Regions from separate parts of the Homo sapiens genome. Here regions 1 and 2 are each linked to region 3. The links come from fine-mapping of genetic effects on gene expression. A gene starts in region 3. Each other region holds a variant in brackets. All regions are shown on one strand. Distances are between the middles of the regions.

Region 1 (2,759 bases), 630 kb before region 3:
CAGGTGCGGTGGCTCACAGCTGTAATCCCAGCACTTTGGGAGGCTGAAGCGGGCAGATCACCTGAGGTCAGGAGTTCAAGACCAGCCTGGCCAACAAGGCGAAACCCTGTCTCTACTAAAAATACAAAAATTAGCCAGGCATGGTGGTGGGCGCCTGTAATCCCAGCTACTTGGGAGGCTGAGGCAGGAGAATTGCTTGAACCTGGGAGGTGGAGGTTGCAGTGAGCCAAGATCGTGCCATTGAACTTTAGCCTGGGTGACAAGAGCAAGACTGTGTCTCAAAAAAAAAAAAAAAAGAAAGAAAGTAAGAAATAGGCTGGGTGCAGTGGTGCATGCCTGGGTGCGGTCCCAGATGTTTGGAGAGCCGAGGTGAGTGGATTGCTTGGGCTCAGGAGTCTGAAACCAGCCTGGGCAACATAATGAGATCCCATCTCTACAAAAAAAAGCCAGGCGGCCTGGCATGGTGGCTCACGCCTGTACTCCCAGCACTTTGGGAGGCCGAGGAGGGTGGATCATGAGGTCAGGAGATCGAGACCATCCTGGCTGATACGGTGAAACCCCATCTCTACTAAAAATACAAAAAATTAGCCGGATGTGGTGGCAGACGCCTGTAGTCCCAGCTACTCGGGAAGCTGAGGCAGGAGAATGGCGTGAATCCGGGAAGCGGAGCTTGTAGTGAGCCTAAATCACGCCATTGCACTCCAGCCAGGGTGACAGAGTGAGACGCCGTCTTAAAAAAAAAAAGAAAACAAAAATAAAAACAAAAAAAAGCCAGGCACTGTGGCATGTGCCTGTAGTTTCAGCTACTCAGGAAGCTGAGGTAGGAGGATTGCTTCAGCCTGGGAGGTTGAGACTGCAGTGAGCAGAGATTGTGCCACTGCACTCCAGCCTGGGCTACAGAGTGAGATCCTGTCTCGAAAAGTAAAAAAGAAGAAGAAAATAATAAATAAAACTGTCTCTATTTGAAGATGACTTGATTATCTATGTAAAAGATCTCCAGGAATTTACAAAAACGTATCTTTTAGAACTAATAAGTGAGTTCAATAAAGTCACAAGATACAAGATCAACATGCAAAATTCAATTGCATTTTTGTATACAGACAATGAACTAGTGGAAACCAAAATAAAAACCTAGTACCACTTACAATTGCTCCAGAGAAAATGAAATACTCGGACATAACTCTACCAAAACATGTACAGGAACTATATGATAAAAATTACAAAATGCCGATGAACGAAATCAAAGGAGAACTAAATACTTGGAGAGACATGTGTTCATGAATTGGACGACTCAAGACAGTAAA[G/A]ATGTTCATTGTCCCTAAATTGATCTACATTAATGCAATTCCTAGCTAAATGTCAGCAATTTTTTTTCATAGACCTAGATAAGCTTACTCTAAAATTTATATGGAAAAGGAAAGGCCCTAAAATAGCCAAAATCATTTGGAAAAGGAATAATAAGATGGGAAAAATCACTCTTCCTCATAAGGCTTGCTATATAGTTATAGTAATCAAGACAACATGGGACTGATTGAGGGATAGACACATATATCAATGGGAGAGAATAGGGGACTTAGAAATAGGTGTGCACAGGTATGTGCGTTAATTTTCGACAAAGTGAAAGAAGAGAGTTCTTAGACTTGACACCCAAAATGCGATCCATAAAAGAAATACTGATGAATTTTTAAATCAAAGTTAAAATCTTCTGCTCTGTGAAAGACCTTGTTAAGAGAAAAAGAAGACAAATACAGATTGGGAGAAAATATTTGCAAATCAGATATCCAGCCAAGGAGTTGTGTCTAGAATACATAAAGAATGCTCAAAACTCAACATTAAAAAATCCAGTTAGAGGCTGGGCGTGGAGGCTCATGCCTGTAATCCCAGCACTTTGGGAGGCCGAGGTGGGTGGATCACAAGGTACCTCCCAAGCACTTTGGGAGGCAGAGGCGGGCAGATCACAGGAAGATCGAGACCATCCTGGCTAACACGGTGAAACCCTGTTTCTACTAAAAATACAAAAAATTAGCCAGGTGTGATGGTGGGCGCCTGTAGTCCCAGCTACTCGGGAGGCTGAGGCAGGAGAATGGCCTGAACCCAGGAGGCGGAGCTTGCAGTGAGCCGAGATCACACCACTGCACTCCAGCCTGGGTGACAGAGTGAGACTCCGTCTCAAGAAAAAAAAAAAAAAAAAATCCAATTAGAAAATGTGAAAAGAGGCTGGGCATGGTGGCTCACGCCTGTAATCCCAGCACTTTGGGAGGATGAGGTGGATGGATCACTTGAAGTTAGGAGTTCGAGACCAGCCTGGCCAACACGGTGAAACCCCTTCTCTACTAAAAATACTAAAATTAGCTAGGCGTGGTGGCACGCACCTGTAATCCCAGCCACGAGGGAGGCTGAGGCAGGAGAATGGCTTGAATCCGGGAGGTGGAGGTTGCAGTGAGCCAAGATCATGCCACTGCATTCCAGCCTGGGCAGGAGTAAGACTCCTCAAAAAAAAAAAAAAAAAAAAAAAAAAAAAAAGGAAAAGACCCGCATAGATATTTCAGCAAAAAGAATATGCAGATAAACACATGAAAAGATGCTCAACATTATTAGCCATTAAAAATGCAAGTTGGGAGGCCGAGGAGGGCGGATAACCTGAGGTTGGGAGTTTGAGACCGGCCTGGCTAACATGGTGAAACCCCGTCTCTACTAAAACTACAAAATTAGCTGCGCGTAGTGGTACACACCTGTAATCCCAGCTACTTGGGAGGCTGAGG
Region 2 (2,759 bases), 300 kb after region 3:
AAGATAGATGGATAGATAGATAGATAGATAGATAGATAGATAGATAGATAGATAGATTGATAGGCAGAATGTGGTGAGCCTCCTTGGAATTGAAGGATGTGGGCAGTTAGAGATGGATGCATGAGAGAAAGAGATCTACCTAAGTGAAGGAGGCAGAGACCTATGGGTTAGGTATGTGTATAAGTATAGGAAGATGAGAAATAAGGTTAGCTATAAGGGGTATGAGGGTTGGCTATGGGTGCATAAAGAATATCACTAATCCCCCGGGCTCAGTGGCTCACACCTGTAATTCCAGCACTATGGGAGGCTGAGGCAGGTGGATCACCTGAGGTTGGGAGTTCGAAACCAGCTTGACCAACATAGAGAAACCCCATCTCTACTTAAAATACAAAATTAGCCGGGCGTGGTGGCGCATGCCTGTAATCCCAGCTGCTCAGGAGGCTGAGGCAGGAGAATGGCTTAAACCCAGGAGGCAGAGGTTGTGGTGAGCCAAGATCATGCCATTGCACTCCAGCCTGGGTAACAAGAGTGAAACTGTCTCAAAAAAAAAAAAAAAAAAAAATATATATATATATATATATATATATCTCACTAATCCATTAAAAATAGGAGCAGAAATAACACAGAAAACAGTTTGGAGTCAGATGGCATAGGCTCAAAATAAAATTATCCTACCACTTACTGTGTGACATTATCTAACCTTTATCTTAGCTTTTTCTTTTTTTTTTTGAGACAGAGTTTCACTCTTGTTGCCCAAGCTGGAGTACAATGGTGCAATCTCAGCTCACTATAACCTCCGCCTCCAGGGTTCAAGTGATTCTCCTGCCTCAGCCTCCTGAGCAGCTAGGATTACAGGTGCCCACCACTATGCCCAGCTAATTTTTTTTTAAATTTTTAGTAGAAACGGGGTTTCACCACGTTGGCCAGGCTGGTATCAAACTCCTGACTTCAGGTGATCTGCCCGCCTCAACCTCCCAAAGTGCTGGGATTACAGGCATGAGCCACCATGCCTGGCCTATCTTAGCTTTTTCATTGACAACATTAGTATAATGTTAACAGCTCTCCTAAGGGAGTCAATACAGTAAGTCATGTGGACTACTTACCAAAGAACCTGGCATATAGGGAGTGCATTGCAGTCATTTCCGGTTTTATTGTTTTTGTTGTTGTTGCTACCTACCATGACCTTGGAAGTTTTGCTTTATTGAAGCCAGTTCTCCACGGCCACTGAACTCATCCGCTTGGTCTATCAAGGCTTCCTTCACTGCTTCGTGTCCACATAAAACCACCACTGGCCGGGACCCATGTACACAGTGAACACAGGGCTGTATTTCTCCCTGAGCTTGGAGTGAAGGAAAACACAAGAGGAGGGGCTGACTGGAGT[A/G]CCAAGCATAGGCCAGTTGAGGATTTTAGAGGATGGCGATTTTAGAGGGATATAAACATGGTACTAAGGAACCAAGGTAAATCTGGGCTTGGAAGGAATACTGGGAAAGAGGCACGGAAGTCTTGGCTTCTGTCATTCTCGGCAAAAGCTCATCCCTTCCCACAAGAGTTACTGTCTGCATCTCCAAAATAAGGGACCTGGATTCGATAAATTCCAAGATTCATACTTCTCTCTCTGAAATGTTAAATTTCTAGAATCTTAAGACTTCATGATACCAAGTCTCAAAGTGCTAAGACAAGCTGAGTCAAAGAATCCTGTGTTTAAAAATATAATGTACTGTGATTCCAAAGTCCTGAGATCATGAAAATCTTATTTCAATGCACTGAGAATGTGTGTTTCCAACATTTTAGGATTCTGGAATTTCAGAATTCTAAGATTTGCAAAGTCTGTGTTTCTGAGAGTCTATCTTTTAGAAGTCATAAGTTTCTATGTGAATCTGGCTATAGGATTAGTTGCTTTTAGCCCTATTAAAGGAGACAGACAGACTCACCTTCATGAAAGACTGAAACGTAGCATCAGTTCGAACTTGCAGCAGGTGCCCCAGGAAAAGAATTGGTGTAGGACCTGGGGGCAGCTTTCCTGCCTTATCCATTCGTTTCCAGGCAATGAGGATGAGCAGGCAAGACAAGCGGAGTGCCAGAAAGATGGTGACAGCCCCTCCCAGCTCCATGGTGCCAGGTCAACAGGTTCTGTCCTGGGCACCAGATCCTGCCTAAGTAGGTCCTGGGAGATCAGCTTATACCAAAATCTGAACACCCTGGGATTCAAGTTTTCCGGGTTTGAGTGTCATCGGGGAAGAGATTGCTTTATATTGGGGGTGGTTATATAACCTATAATCTCCCACCTGAATAAAGGTAAATTGAATTCACACAGGGAAATCCTCTGGGGCCATTCCCCTTTCTTCATATTTCCAGTCTCCCTGTTCTTCCCTCTCAGCTCAACAGAATTGAACAGAATTTCTTGGTGGGGTGTAAGAGGCAAATTATTATCTTTTTAGGCTATTGATTTTAGGATCCAGACAATCTGGGTACAAGTGGCAGCTCTGTCTTTTCTTCACTGGGAAAGTCACTTAACCTCTGGGACTTGTTTCCCCATCTATCAAACAGGGAAACCATGTTGTTTTATTTTTTTTTATTGTTTTATTTTTTGAGACAGATTCTCACTCTGTCACCCAGGCTGGAGTGTAGTGGTATAATCTCATTTCAACTTCTGCCTCCAGGGTTCAAGCGATTCTCATGCCTCAGCCTCCCAAGTAGCTAGAACTACAGGCGCACACCACCATGTCCAGCTAATTTTTGTATTTTTGTAGAGATGTGGT
Region 3 (2,726 bases):
GTGCAAAGGTCACACACCAGTAAGTGGTGGCAGGCTGTGAGCGGAGGGCCTAGCAGCCCTTGACTTACCATGGCCATCAAAAGTCCCTTCCAGCATCGCTACGGTTCCCCGGCCGCTGAACTCCTCAGCCTGACCTCCCAGGGCCTCCCGCACAGCCTCCTGCCCAACCAGGACCACCACAGGCCGCCAGGGTCCCAGGTAGATGGTGAACACCGGTCCGTACTTCTTACTCAGCTGGGGGTAGGGAGGAAGAAAGAGGAGGGTGCTGTGACCTCTTCGATCCAAGGTGTCTCCATCATGGCCCCTGTCACTTGAGGAGCCACCGGGTCTAGCTTCTACGCCCTCTACCAGGAACCTGCCCCCATCCCAGCAGAAATAGCTGAGGCTCAGTTCTCTTTTTGCACTAGGCTCCCGGGCCTCCTCCCCCAGTACATCCTTCAGTGGCATCCCCCAACTTCCTGTCGTTCCCTTGCTTCCTGCTGAACCCTAACCTCTGACGCTGGGCAATCCAGAAGCAGTTTGGGTCTCCCTTAATTCCTTAGGGCCCTCCCTGCCCCCCAAATATCCAGCCACCCCTTTCAGTCACCACAAAACCCTGAAATTCTGGAGCAGACACTGCTGAGTATCCGCCCCATCTCTCCCCCAAGACCCCACCCTTTTTTCTACGTCCTTGAAGTCACCCAGAATCCTTTTGAATGGGAAACTTCAGGCCTCTGCCCACTCCCACCTGCTATCCCCTAAGGCTGGGGCTGCCTCTGCCTTCTTTCTTGCTCTCCTTCCTCCCCAGTCCCAGGAACTCCCAACTGAGCTCCACCCATCCTCCCATCCTGCATTCTCTGCTGGCAGATTCCTTCAGCGGGACCCCCTCTCTGAGCCTGCAACCCTCCAGCCTCTTCTCTGCCTCCAACTCCCCGCAGGGACGCCTCCCCCTTTTCTTCTTTGTGCCCTCTTCAGCATGCCCCACCTGTATGGCTCCAGCTACCTCTCCCTCTGGGACAAGCCCAGCTGCATCAGCTTCTCCTCGGCTGGAGGACTCCTGTCTCTTTCAGCCTCGGTCCCTGCCCATCACCTTCCCAGGATTCTGTAGGCAGAGGTCTCTGCCCCTCCTAGCCCTGGTCCCCCACCCCACGATCCTCTCTCCCGGGCACCTCTCCCCTTCTCAGCCCTGGACAACCTGCTCCTGCCCCCAACCCCAGGACAGCAGCAGCCCCTTTGCCTTGGGACCCCTGCCCCTGCCTCCTCCCTAGGATACCCGAAAAGCCCCTCACCCTGGCACTCGGGTTTCTCTCCCAGGAATCCTCCCACCCCTAGCCAGGACGTCCCCAGAGCCCCTTACCCGCATGAGCCCTGAATACAGCGCCCCGGGCCGTAGCTGCAGGAGGTTTCCCAGCAGTGGTAGCGGCGTGGGCCCGGGGGGCAGGTGGCCTCGGGCCCTGGTCCCGGACAGCGCCAGCGTCAGCAGCAGGAGCAGCGCCAGCGCCAGCAGCAGCGCCCAGGTGCCGGTCGCCTCCATCTCGGCAGGTCGGCTCCTTCTCCTCTCCCAGGCGCTCCGCGCGGCTGGGCTAGTTAGGGGCGGGAGCCGGGCGTCTCCCTCCCCAACGAAGTCAGGCGCGGGGCGGGGCAGCTAGCCCAGCCCCCTGCCTCCTGGGCAGGCTTATCTCCCCGCCGCCGGGTTTCTCCCGGACCACCGCCGCCGCCTGATGTCGGGAACTCATGCTCCAACGGATGTCTCCGAGGTCACCCAGGTTTACGCGGGGCTTGGGCGGCGGAGACAGCGCCTTGGGCCCCCGGATAGGGAGTAAGCAAACAGAAGAACCTGGAAGTCAGAGACTTTGGCCGCCTGGAGGTTGCCACACCCCGCATCTGGCGGTGACCCCGCGCCACTCTCCCCAGCTCCTACCTCGCTCATTGTTCGGATGTGGGTTCCTGTGTGCGTGCGTGTATGGGGTGTCTTTGAGTCAATTTTCTCCAGCATCTTACATCTTCACGAACTGAGAGGAAGGACTTGACCTTTAAGGATAAACAATCTGAAGTCCAGGGAGATAAATCGGTTGGCCCCAGGTCAACTTGGCTGAGTGGCAGAGTTAATATTTTGACTTGGGCCAGTTAGAATGATTGAGTCATTCATTCATTCGTTTAGAGGCAGTTTGCAGAGCGGTTAGGACCGTGATGGCTGAAGCCAGACTGCTTGAATTCACAGCCTAATTCCTCTGTGCCTCTGTTAGCCTTGTAAAATGGGGCTAGTTTTCAGGATTAAATAGTACATCTGTGCACACCATTTAAAGCAGACGCAGGTGCACATGTAACAAGCACTAAATAGATGTTAGCTAATATTTCTGCAACTAACTGTTATTGAGGTCTTACTATAAACAAGACCTTGTTCTAGACCCGAGGGTGCAGCTATGAGCGATGGAGAGAAGGGCTCTGGCCTTCCTGAGCTCATATCCACATGCAGATGAAGATGAGATGAAAACAATTTCAGGAAGTGAGAAGGCCTGCCAGGGGAATGGGCTTCTTGAGAAGGAAGAATGTTAGAACCATTTGTGCATGAATTATTGTAGGTTTGGTTCACTGCTGTATCCCCAACATATAGTGCAGTGCCTGACACACAGTAGGCACTCAATAAATATTTGTTATATTTTCAAAGATTGAATGTAGGAGATAAGATTCATGAAGTCTGCAGGGGCCATCTTGCAAGGTCTTGGAAAAGACTGCATTTTATTTCT

Alleles and levels. Positions count from the first base shown, and alleles are read on the strand shown. Sizes are in standard deviations (SD) of each study's normalised expression. Not every link is listed here.
In carriers of allele A in region 2, the expression in subcutaneous fat of the gene that starts at base 1,559 in region 3 tends to be higher than with G alone (large effect, 1.2 SD a copy in TwinsUK).

Evidence for each region.
Region 1: its variant is fine-mapped to the expression of CYP2S1 in coronary artery (GTEx, PIP above 0.99).
Region 2: its variant is fine-mapped to the expression of CYP2S1 in subcutaneous fat (TwinsUK, PIP 0.95).

What each region holds. Positions count from the first base shown.
Region 1 is chr19:41,817,386-41,820,144 of GRCh38, reverse strand. No RefSeq gene overlaps it. Among named protein-coding and RNA genes, the nearest start is that of CEACAM3, 22 kb to the right of the region's middle. The variant G/A (reference allele first, on the strand shown) is at 1,305.
Region 2 is chr19:40,890,571-40,893,329 of GRCh38, reverse strand. It overlaps the pseudogene CYP2G1P. Among named protein-coding and RNA genes, the nearest start is that of CYP2A7, 9.7 kb to the right of the region's middle. The variant A/G (reference allele first, on the strand shown) is at 1,382.
Region 3 is chr19:41,192,052-41,194,777 of GRCh38, reverse strand. CYP2S1 (cytochrome P450 family 2 subfamily S member 1) reads right to left here and starts at 1,559. Exons shown (of 9, transcript NM_030622.8): 1 at 1,337-1,559; 2 at 69-234. The coding sequence starts at 1,513. LOC124904790 reads left to right here and starts at 1,726. Exons shown (of 3, transcript XM_047439802.1): 1 at 1,726-1,798. The coding sequence starts at 1,726. RefSeq lists enhancers at 1-222, 1,533-2,033 and a silencer at 1,531-1,620.